2 linked regions of the Homo sapiens genome follow. The protein of the gene in region 1 purifies or fractionates together with the protein of each later gene. This does not show direct contact. Each region holds a gene or a part of one and is shown in the gene's direction. Other genes may lie near its edges.

Region 1 (4,081 bases):
TCCCCAACCCCGCAGTGGACTCTCGTCAGAGCAGCAGTGGGAACCTAGTCAGAGCTGTCACTCCTCTGCCCAGTGCCCACAGACCCTCTGCCCACTCCCTTGCTTCTCTCAGCTCAGCTCCTGGGACTCTCCTCTCACTCGTTCTGCTCCAGCCTTTTTATAGTCCTCGGGCACTCTTGACATGTTATCCACTCCTGGGCCTGTGTGCCTTCCCCCAGCCTGAGGCACTCCTTCCTCAGAAATCTCAGCTTCCTCAGGCCCTGCTCACATTCCACCTTCTCTGGCCACACAACTCGAAGCATGGAGTCCCCACCCTCTGCTGCACTCCCCTCTCCACCTCAGCTGGCCTGCCTTTCTCCATCCACCTCAGCAAATTTGCTGTTTCCTTATTAATGTATTCTCTCTCTCTCCTTCCCAACAGAAGGTAAGCCCACTGAGGGAAGACTTCAGTCTATTTTGTTCCCTCCGGTGCCAACTGGGATGGGTGCCTGGCACACAGGGGGCCTTCAGGAAATACCGATTGACCTTTCACCTGCTTCCTTAGCCTTTTTCTGGCTCTGGGCCCCAGAGTCCTCATCCCTATACTTAGCCCCCAAGAAGAGAAAGCACTTGCTGTTGGTCCCAACCTTCCTTCCTGCTCAGTCATCATCCTCATGCCCCTGACTCTGGGCCCAGGAGCCTCTCCTCGCCTTTGCTGTCTTTCCTTCCTTTGCTCTGCTGTCCCTGCCCTAGTAAGACACCTTCATTATATTCGAAGAGCAGTGATGAAGACTAACTTCTTTCCTTCAGTGAAGCATGTTCCTAGAGAGTGGTTTTCAGATACTTTTTCACTTATAAGGTGGATTCTTAAGTGGAAACATAGTTTATTTTTATTAGGTTGGTGCAAAAGTAATTGCAGTTTTTGCCATTTTTTTATGGCAAAAAACTGCAATTACTTTTGCACCAACCTAATAAAAAAGATTAAAGCTCTCAGCTGTTCTAGTTCAAAAGAAAAGGAGCCAGAGGCCACCCATGCTCACAGGGTCCTCACAGTAGCAGCTCTGCTGGACTCTCAGCTTGCTGAATAGTTAGAAAAAGGGAAAAAACCCACACTATTCTAAGCTAGTATGTACAACCCACATGACCATCCCAAAACTGTGTGACTTGTAGCTCCTGTCTCTTGGCATTGCCTGGCTGGCATATAGACAGTATTTGCTGCCTGTGGAACCCCCAGTCCTTTGGAGGCTGGTGATAACCTAGTTCACAGTTCTTCTGTAGGGTGGTAATAACCCAGAGTAACCTGCACCTGAGAATCAACCAGCTCTCCCTAGCAGGGGCATTCCTCACTTTATGTTTTTATAGTAACCCACTCAGATGTTTCCTTTTACTCTATATCATATATTTCAAATTTTAAAATCACTTAAATAAGTTGGAAACAATCAAAATGTACAGTAATAGAAGAGTGTTTAAGTAGTTCTGATACTTGCATGTAGTAGAAACAATGACTAAAGGGTGGGCATGGTGGCTCACAGTTATAATCCCAGCACTTTGGGAGGCTAAGGCAGGAGGATCACTTGAGCCCTGGAGTTCAAGACCAGTCTGGGCTACATGGTGAGACCTCGTCTCTACAAAAAATTTAAAAATTAGCTGGGTGTGGTGGTTTGCACCTGTAGTCTCAGCTACTTGGGAAGCTGAGGCAGGAGGTTTGCCTAAGCCTGGGTGGTCAAGGCTGCAGTGAACCATGGTCACGACAGTGATACTCCAGCCTGGGCAACAGCAAGACCCTATCTCAAGGCCAGGCACAGTGGCTCACACCTGTAATCCCAGCACTTTGGGAGGCTGAGGCGGGTGGATCACCTAAGGTCAGTAGTTGAAGACCAGCCTGGCCAACATGGCAAAACCCTGCCTCTACTATAGAAAAAACAGCCGGGCATGGTGGTACATGCATGCAATCCCAGCTACTTGGGAGGCTGAGGCAGGAGAATCGCTTGAACCTGGGAAGCAGAGGTTACAGTGAGCCAAGATCACGCCACTGCACTCCAGCCTGGGCGACAGAGCAAGACTCCATCTCAAAAAAAAAAAAAAAAAAAAATTAATCTCATGCTGACTGCAGAGGCACCCAAGGATGAGGAAAGGCTGGTACACGTTATTTTCCTGTTGAGGGGACAACCCTGGGCAACCTTAACAAGGGCTGCCTTCTCAATGCTTCTCTAAGATTGTACCTCAGAAGAACTGATGGGTTCTCCTGATATAAAGCTTGTGACCCATGGGTCTGGGAAACCTGGAGATGAGACTGTAGGCTTCTCCTAAAAGGAATGAAAATGAGAGTCTTGCCCAGATTTTAAAGATATATTGTTGGAGAACTATGCAGCAACATGGTCACACTACAAGGCTTTTCACTTCCAAGCATGGTTGTTAATATCTTTTCTTGACAAGTGAAAAATCCCTTTACAGAAAAAGTTACTCATCCCCTGCTATTGATAGAAGTTTAAGGGTTCTTTCTGTCTAATCCTGGAGAGATTAGAAGCAGGCCCAGCTGTGAAACATTTGCAGAACCATCAGCCCTGACTGCTGTCTGTCTGCTTGAATCTCTAAGCAGCATATTCTAAGTAAGAATAATCTTACAGAAAAAGCAAACAGCACTTAAGAAAGTGATCAGTATTATAGGCCATGATAACTAACTGCTATGACCATTTCTGTTTTTTACTGTCTAGTTTATGGAAATTTTATAGTACCTACTTTTCTATGCAGTGTTTAAGGGTGATTAAATGTAAGATATTTGGACATTTTAAACCAATGAAGTATTTTAAATAGACTGGTTCAGGGACACGACCATGGCAGTTTTGCTTTATTCACGTTGTTAAATGGGCTTGCTGAGTAACTCATGTGTTGGTCTAGATGTAGCACATTGAATCCACTTATCAAAACACTGTATCCCTAAGCACTTGCCACCTGTGGGAGAAAGTATTTGAGACACTGAGTTCTGCCTAGAGTTGTATACTTTGTAGACCTGAACTGAAGCCCCTGATGGAATAAGAGAGTTGTAACCTCAGGCAGAGGGGAGGGAACAGACAGGGGGCTGGTGAGGTAGGAGAGTAAGAGTGAAGAGAACCTGTCCTCCTCAGGATCCTGGTTTTCTGTGAGCCTGCTTTTATCTGGGAAATCTTTAGACAGCATTACTTCCCAAGGGTTAAACTTTAGGTGGGTCCTAAAACTAGGGGTTTTATATTCTTCATTTTCTCCTTCCTTCAGTCACTAACAGCTGCTAGGTAAGGCAATATAAGAGCTTTTTTAAATTTATGTTATTTTTAGCCCTTTACTGCTAAAAACATTAACAAATACTTTTAGAGATCCATGTGACAGTAACTCAAAAGATTTAACAATGATGGCTATTGGCGTGTCTTCCAAACGTATAATTTGGCCTTTGTGGGTGGCATTTTCAGTGTTGTGAGTGCACAGTTAGGGCCCCAACATGTAAGAATATATTTACATTGTGTGTTCTTTTGTTTGGTTATGACAATATTTGTTCTTATGACAATATTTTTATTTTCTATATAATAGGTTAAAGGTTATTGAAAATGAATTGATACAGGCATCAACAAAGAAATTTTCTTTGGAGAAGTTATATAAAGAGCCCAGCATTTCTAGTATACAAATGGTGGATTGTTGTAAGAGACTTCTAGAACAATCACTGCCTTACCTACATGGGATGCACCTCTGCATTTCACATTTTTACTCTGTTATGCAAGATGGAGACCTTTGTATTCCTTGGAATTGGAAGAATGGAGAAGCCATTAAGTAACACAGAAATCTGTTTTATTTTTTTAAGAGATAAGAAAGGAACTTAAATTAAAAATATTTAAATCCACAATTTGATATAACAGTATTATTTACATAAGAACAAAGTTTCTAACTGCTGCTTTAAAAGTAGACTTTTTTAAAAAAATTAATTTCTGCTAGGAGAGGTTTTATATGCCAGGCGTGGTGGCTCATGCCTGCGGTCCCAGCTACTTAGGGAGGCTAAGATAGGAGGATCACTTGAGCCCAGGAGGCCAAGGTTGCAGTGGGCCCAGATTGCACCATTGCCCTCCAGCCTGAGCAA
Region 2 (5,327 bases), on another chromosome or scaffold:
CCTCCTGTATGACCTGCCTCTGCAGCCACACATGGGGCAGAGGGAAGACATGCAGGCTGGGTGCATCCTCCGGAGGCTCCTGGGCTAGCAGGAAGGGAGGAAGGAGCAGGGTGTCATGTGATACCATCTGGTGGGCAGGTGGCCTGACCAGGCAGAAGGGAGACAGGCAGGGGGCTCATTGCCACCATTATCCCTGAGTGGCATGTTATGAGCACTTTACAGGCTGCATACTCGGCATCCTCACAACACCGGGTATCAGTGAGGAGGGAGGTGAGGCTCCCTGCTTGGGGCTGCCTGCCGTGAAGGCAGCTTCTTGGGAGGCCAGATCTGGGCCAGGCTGGGTGTGGGGGGCTGGGTCCTTGGCCGTCCCCACCAAGAGAGGGCAAGTGGCAGCTGTGCAGTGGGTCATCCCCGTCCTGCAGGAGCTGGCTTGGAGATGCCCCTGGGCTTGTCTTGCTGCTTTCATGGAGCAGAGCGGTCCGTGTGGGTGAGGGTGGGCGAGGCCCAGGCCGAGTTGGGTTGGCCCCTGCCTGGCTGTGTGGTCATGGGTGGTTTCTTACCCTCTCCTTGCCTCTTCATCTGTGCAGTGGGGAAGAGTGTCTGCATCATGGGGCTACTTTGGGGGTTAGCGATAAGGCGTGTGGGATTCCTAGAACTCTGCCTCCTGTACAGCAGGTGCTCAGTCAGTGGCAGCCACTGTTCCAGGACATTCCAGAGAAAGCACGTCTCAGTGCGGGCTTTTTGCTTTTTCTTCTGTCCCTGCAAGTTCACATACTGTGCTAGCTCTGGGCAGACCCCACTCTGAGGATTCCCATTCTGCTCTTGTTCCACATTCTTGGTTCTTTTCTATGGTTCAGGCTCCAGGGTGAGGGCACCTCTGCTGAGAAGCCCTCCAGACTTTCCCCTGAGCCTGGGGTCCCTGCAGGGCCAGATGTCTTTCCCATGGTGGGGTCCAGCCTTGGCTGTCTGGCGTTTGCTTTCAGGGCCCAGAGCACTCGTCAGCGAGGCCCGAAAGGTTCCTGCAGATGAGCAATGATGACTCGGATGCCTACCCTGTGAGTGTTGCTGCTGTCCCCAGGACAGGGACGCGCCCTATTGTGCCCACAGGGCTAGGGGTCCAGGGTGTGGGTGCAGCAGACAGCCACCCTGGCCATATGCATCTCGTCCCCACAGGCATTCACCAAGGACTTCGAGGTGAGCCAGCTCTATGACTGCAACTGGATCGTGGTCAACTGCTCCACACCGGCCAACTACTTCCACGTGCTGCGCCGGCAGATCCTGCTGCCCTTCCGCAAGCCGGTGAGTCTCCGTCCCAGGGCAGGGGTCACAGGCAGGGGGCCTGGCCAGGCAGGGCCAGCTGGCAGCTGGGCGTGTATTTCCCTTCCAGCTGATTATCTTCACACCTAAATCTCTGCTGAGGCACCCAGAGGCCAAGTCCAGCTTTGACCAAATGGTATCCGGTACGTGCCTGGCCTGGGTGTGTGGGGTAGCCCACAATGGGGCGGTGGCCCATTGTGTGGCTTCTGCTTCTGGGGCTTCTCCAACCTCCCCTCTGCCTGTGGCTCTGCTGACCTGCAGCAGCTCCTGGCATGGTCCCACTAGCAGTAGGGTTGGGAGGTTGGCACAATGGCTGACCTGGGCCAGCTCAGGTCATGTGGGTTGCGTCCATGGTAGAGTCCACTGGGGCCCCCTTAGACCCTAGCAGGGCTGGTCGAGGCCTGGCAGAGGCCTGCTGAGTTCGCAAGATATTGAGTATCATTCATTCATTTGTCCATTTTAAAAATTCATGAGCCAAACAGACATTACAGGCCCTGGGGTCCTGGTGTCCCCTCCAGGAGTCTTTGGCCTTATTTCCCTGGGAGTCAGATCAGATAAAACACTATAGTTGCAACTGAGAGGTGACTATGTCCAGGGAAGGACAGGTGTGAGGCTGGTGGAGCAGAGCTGTCTTGGAAAATGGTCCTGGGCAGTAGAGGGAGGGCTGGGAAGGGCCTCAGCATGGACAGGGGTTGGATTTTCTCCCATGTGTGTTTGGATGTCCCCTCTGTGCAGGTGGGCAGCTGTTAGAGCTCTGATGTCGGGACTGGACTACCTGGGCTACCTGCCCTGTGCTGGCTTCTCTCTTGAGGGCCTGGGATCCATTTGTCCTCTCTACCCCAGAGTCTTCACCTGAGATGCAGGGATGTGAGGACACTACAGTAGCTTCCTGAGAGGTTTTGCAGTGTGCGTGACCTGGGGTCAGGATCATGGGCTCAGGAAGGAAGAATGGTTGGGGCTTGGAGGTGAAGCTCAGCTGCCAGGCTGAAAGAGGAGGAGCATGCAGCAGCCTCCTGGGACATCTGCTTAGTGGTGGGGGACTGCAGTGCTCTGCAGGAGGTGGGCGCAGCTGGGCAGAAGCAAGGTTGGGGCAAAGGATGATGCCATCATGTTGCCTTCTCTGTCTCCTTCAGGGCGCTTCTTATTGTACCCCCACCTCCGGTCACCTTAAACGTGATGCTTCCAGGGCTCAACCCTTGGGTGTCTCCACCCCTCTCCCTATGACAGCTCAGGGTGTCATCTGCCCCCTGCTCCATCTTTTAGTTCAAGAGGTGTCCACTGCAGCCACAAGTCCAAACCTGCAGTTAGTGTCAGTGGCTAAGGAGAGCCTGGGGATGCAGGCCTGGTCCTGAGCTGCCCCAGCCCCTCTGGGTACCAACGCCTCTGCCATGTCCTGTTGGTCCCTCAGGGACCAGCTTCCAGCGGGTGATTCCTGAAGATGGGGCCGCAGCACGGGCCCCTGAGCAGGTGCAGCGGCTCATCTTCTGCACGGGAAAGGTGTACTATGACCTGGTGAAGGAGCGGAGCAGCCAGGACCTGGAGGAGAAAGTGGCCATCACGCGCCTGGAGCAGGTGTGCCTGAACCCCTTGTACAGTCAAGTGATGGGCAAGCTCACGTCGCTGGCCCCGGCTCTGGCCAATGTGCCAGGCAGGCCAGATGAAGGCCGGTGAGGCCCTGTGCCTCCTGTCCGGGGGTGCTGGGGACATACCGCCCCTCCTCTGGCTATGCTCCTTTGTTTCTGCCTCCCCAGATCTCTCCATTCCCCTTCGACCTGATCAAGCAGGAGGCAGAGAAGTACCCAGGTGCGGAGCTGGCCTGGTGTCAGGAGGAGCACAAGAACATGGGCTACTATGACTACATCAGCCCACGCTTCATGACCATCCTGAGGCGCGCACGGCCCATATGGTACATGGTGGGGCCGCTGATTGCCCCTCACCTCGGCCCTGAGGCTCTGTCCTGGCTCCATCTGTCCCATAGGCCATGCTACCCAGAACTGGCCCTGCCCTTCTCTGGTGATGAGCAATGATGGGGCATCATCAGTACTGGCTTTGTGTTTGTTCTGCAGCCAGAACTGTATTAAGGAACCTGCTACATGTCTCAAAACTCCTGCCTTAGATCTTAGGCCGGTTATGTAGTCCTTGGAGCCTTAGTCCCTGCATCTCTACAAAGGGCGGTGATAAGATTAGATCTGATGTATGTATTAGCTCTGGCACATGGTGCGTTCCCAATACTGGCATCATGTGTTCCTGGGAAGATGGGAGAGGGTCCTGAGAAACTCCAAGAAGCCAAAAGTATGTTTGTCCCCAAAGTCTTTGAGTTGTTGCCTCATTTGTTGTCCTCATGGGCAAGTGCAGTGACATGGAGGGACAGTTTCTCCCCACTCTTCTGTGGCTAGGTGACTGAGTTTGATCCGGGCTTTGCAGCTCATTGGAAGTGGTGCCAGGGCCAAAAGGCAGGGTCTATGGCTTCGAGGTCAGCGGTTCTCAGATGCGTGCCCCCTGCAGTCCCGGAGTGAGGGCAGCGGTTGGGGGGCGGCTAGGCCCCGCCTTCCCCTTAGCTTGTCTCTCCTCCTCCAGGTATGTTGGCCGGGACCCAGCGGCTGCACCAGCCACAGGAAACAGGAACACTCACCTGGTGTCACTGAAGAAGTTTCTGGATACTGCCTTCAATCTCCAGGCCTTTGAGGGCAAGACATTTTAGAGCTGGGCAAAACCTGTGTAGGTCTCGCTGTGGGTTTGCTGGGGACCAAGGGGGTGATGAAAAGGGGAGGGGCGGAGCTCCTGCCCAGGAGAGGGGCTGTGGGGCCCCAGGATAAAACAGACACAGTGACAGGGCCAAGAGCCAGCACTGCTGGCCTTGGTGTCATGCCAGAATCTACCAGGACTGAGGGAGCCAGAGGAGTCCTATAGGCAGGCTACTGTGCTGGAGCATCCCCCAGCTGCTCCCATCTTGCTGGAATTTCTTGGGCGGCTTCTCCACCTGTATCTCAAGACAGACACCCGGGGGCCTGTGTCTGTGGCCGCTCCCATCCCGGCAGCCCTGGCTGCTGCTCGCCCCACCCTCGCTTATCTGTAGATTCAAAGCGATGTTCTCTTCTGTGCTCTTAGAAGTAGGGAGTTCAGCAGTAACAGCCAGGTGAAGCGAACCTGCTGGGTGATTTGTTTGCGCTCTGTTTTATGGGGCATTCCTGCGAGATGTGTCAGCTTCTGTGTGAAATGCAGCCACAGCTCATGTGTACCAAAGTAGAAAACCAAATCACAGAGAAATAAAAACATGCTTCAGAGAGATTTGCTGTTTTCATTTCATGTTGTAAAACTGGGGGAGGGATAGGCAGTTGAGAGAAGGTAGGGAATGGGGAGAAAGTTAAAAAAATGGAGAGAAGAAAATATCTGCCTCCATGGATATTTTTTTGAGACGGAGTTTGGCTCTTGTCACCCAGGCTGGAGTGGAGTGGTGCGATCTTGGCTCACTGCAACCTCCGCCTCCCAGATTCAAGTGATTCTCTTGCCTCAGCCTCCTGAGTAGCTGGGATTACAGGCATGCGCCACTATGCCCGGCTAATTTTTTTGTATTATTAATAGACGGGGTTTCACCATGTTGGCCAGGCTGGTCTCAAACTCCTGACCTCAAGTGATCCGCCTGCCTTGGCCTCCCAAAGTGCTGGGATGACAGGTGTGAGCCACTACGCCAGATTTTCATTTGAGCACCAGGTAGTGTCTGTTGGCTTCTCCACTCTGGCCTTTTGTGGGTTTTGCTTCCCTGTGGAGATACTGGAGAAGCTGCCACAGAGGAGGGATGTTTTGCTTGGAACAGATCATGTGTTCATTTATCCCCTTCTCAGAGCACTTCCTCCGTGCGGGACACTAGGGCCCGGGTGGAAGGCATCTGTCTGCATGCTGGCTTTTCGCATCGGGAGTCCAGTGGGGAGACATGTCAGCTGTTTAATTCATTGAGTTACGAGTTATGTTGGAAGTCAATGCAGACAGCTGTGGGTGTCAGGGAAGGATCC

The links. The genes of interacting proteins can lie anywhere in the genome.
Region 2: the proteins of TCAIM (region 1) and OGDHL purify together in Homo sapiens (affinity purification with mass spectrometry; one large-scale study listed by BioGRID and IntAct). This does not show direct contact.

The regions. Positions count from the first base shown.
Region 1 is NC_000003.12:44,403,902-44,407,982, forward strand, and holds part of TCAIM (T-cell activation inhibitor, mitochondrial), read left to right. Parts: intron 1-3,540; coding exon 3,541-3,781; 3' UTR 3,782-4,081. UniProt on the Homo sapiens protein: May regulate T-cell apoptosis.
Region 2 is NC_000010.11:49,733,919-49,739,245, reverse strand, and holds the end of OGDHL (2-oxoglutarate dehydrogenase-like, mitochondrial), read left to right. Parts: intron 1-983; coding exon 984-1,055; intron 1,056-1,173; coding exon 1,174-1,299; intron 1,300-1,387; coding exon 1,388-1,460; intron 1,461-2,725; coding exon 2,726-2,889; intron 2,890-3,068; coding exon 3,069-3,223; intron 3,224-3,894; coding exon 3,895-4,018; 3' UTR 4,019-4,605; downstream 4,606-5,327.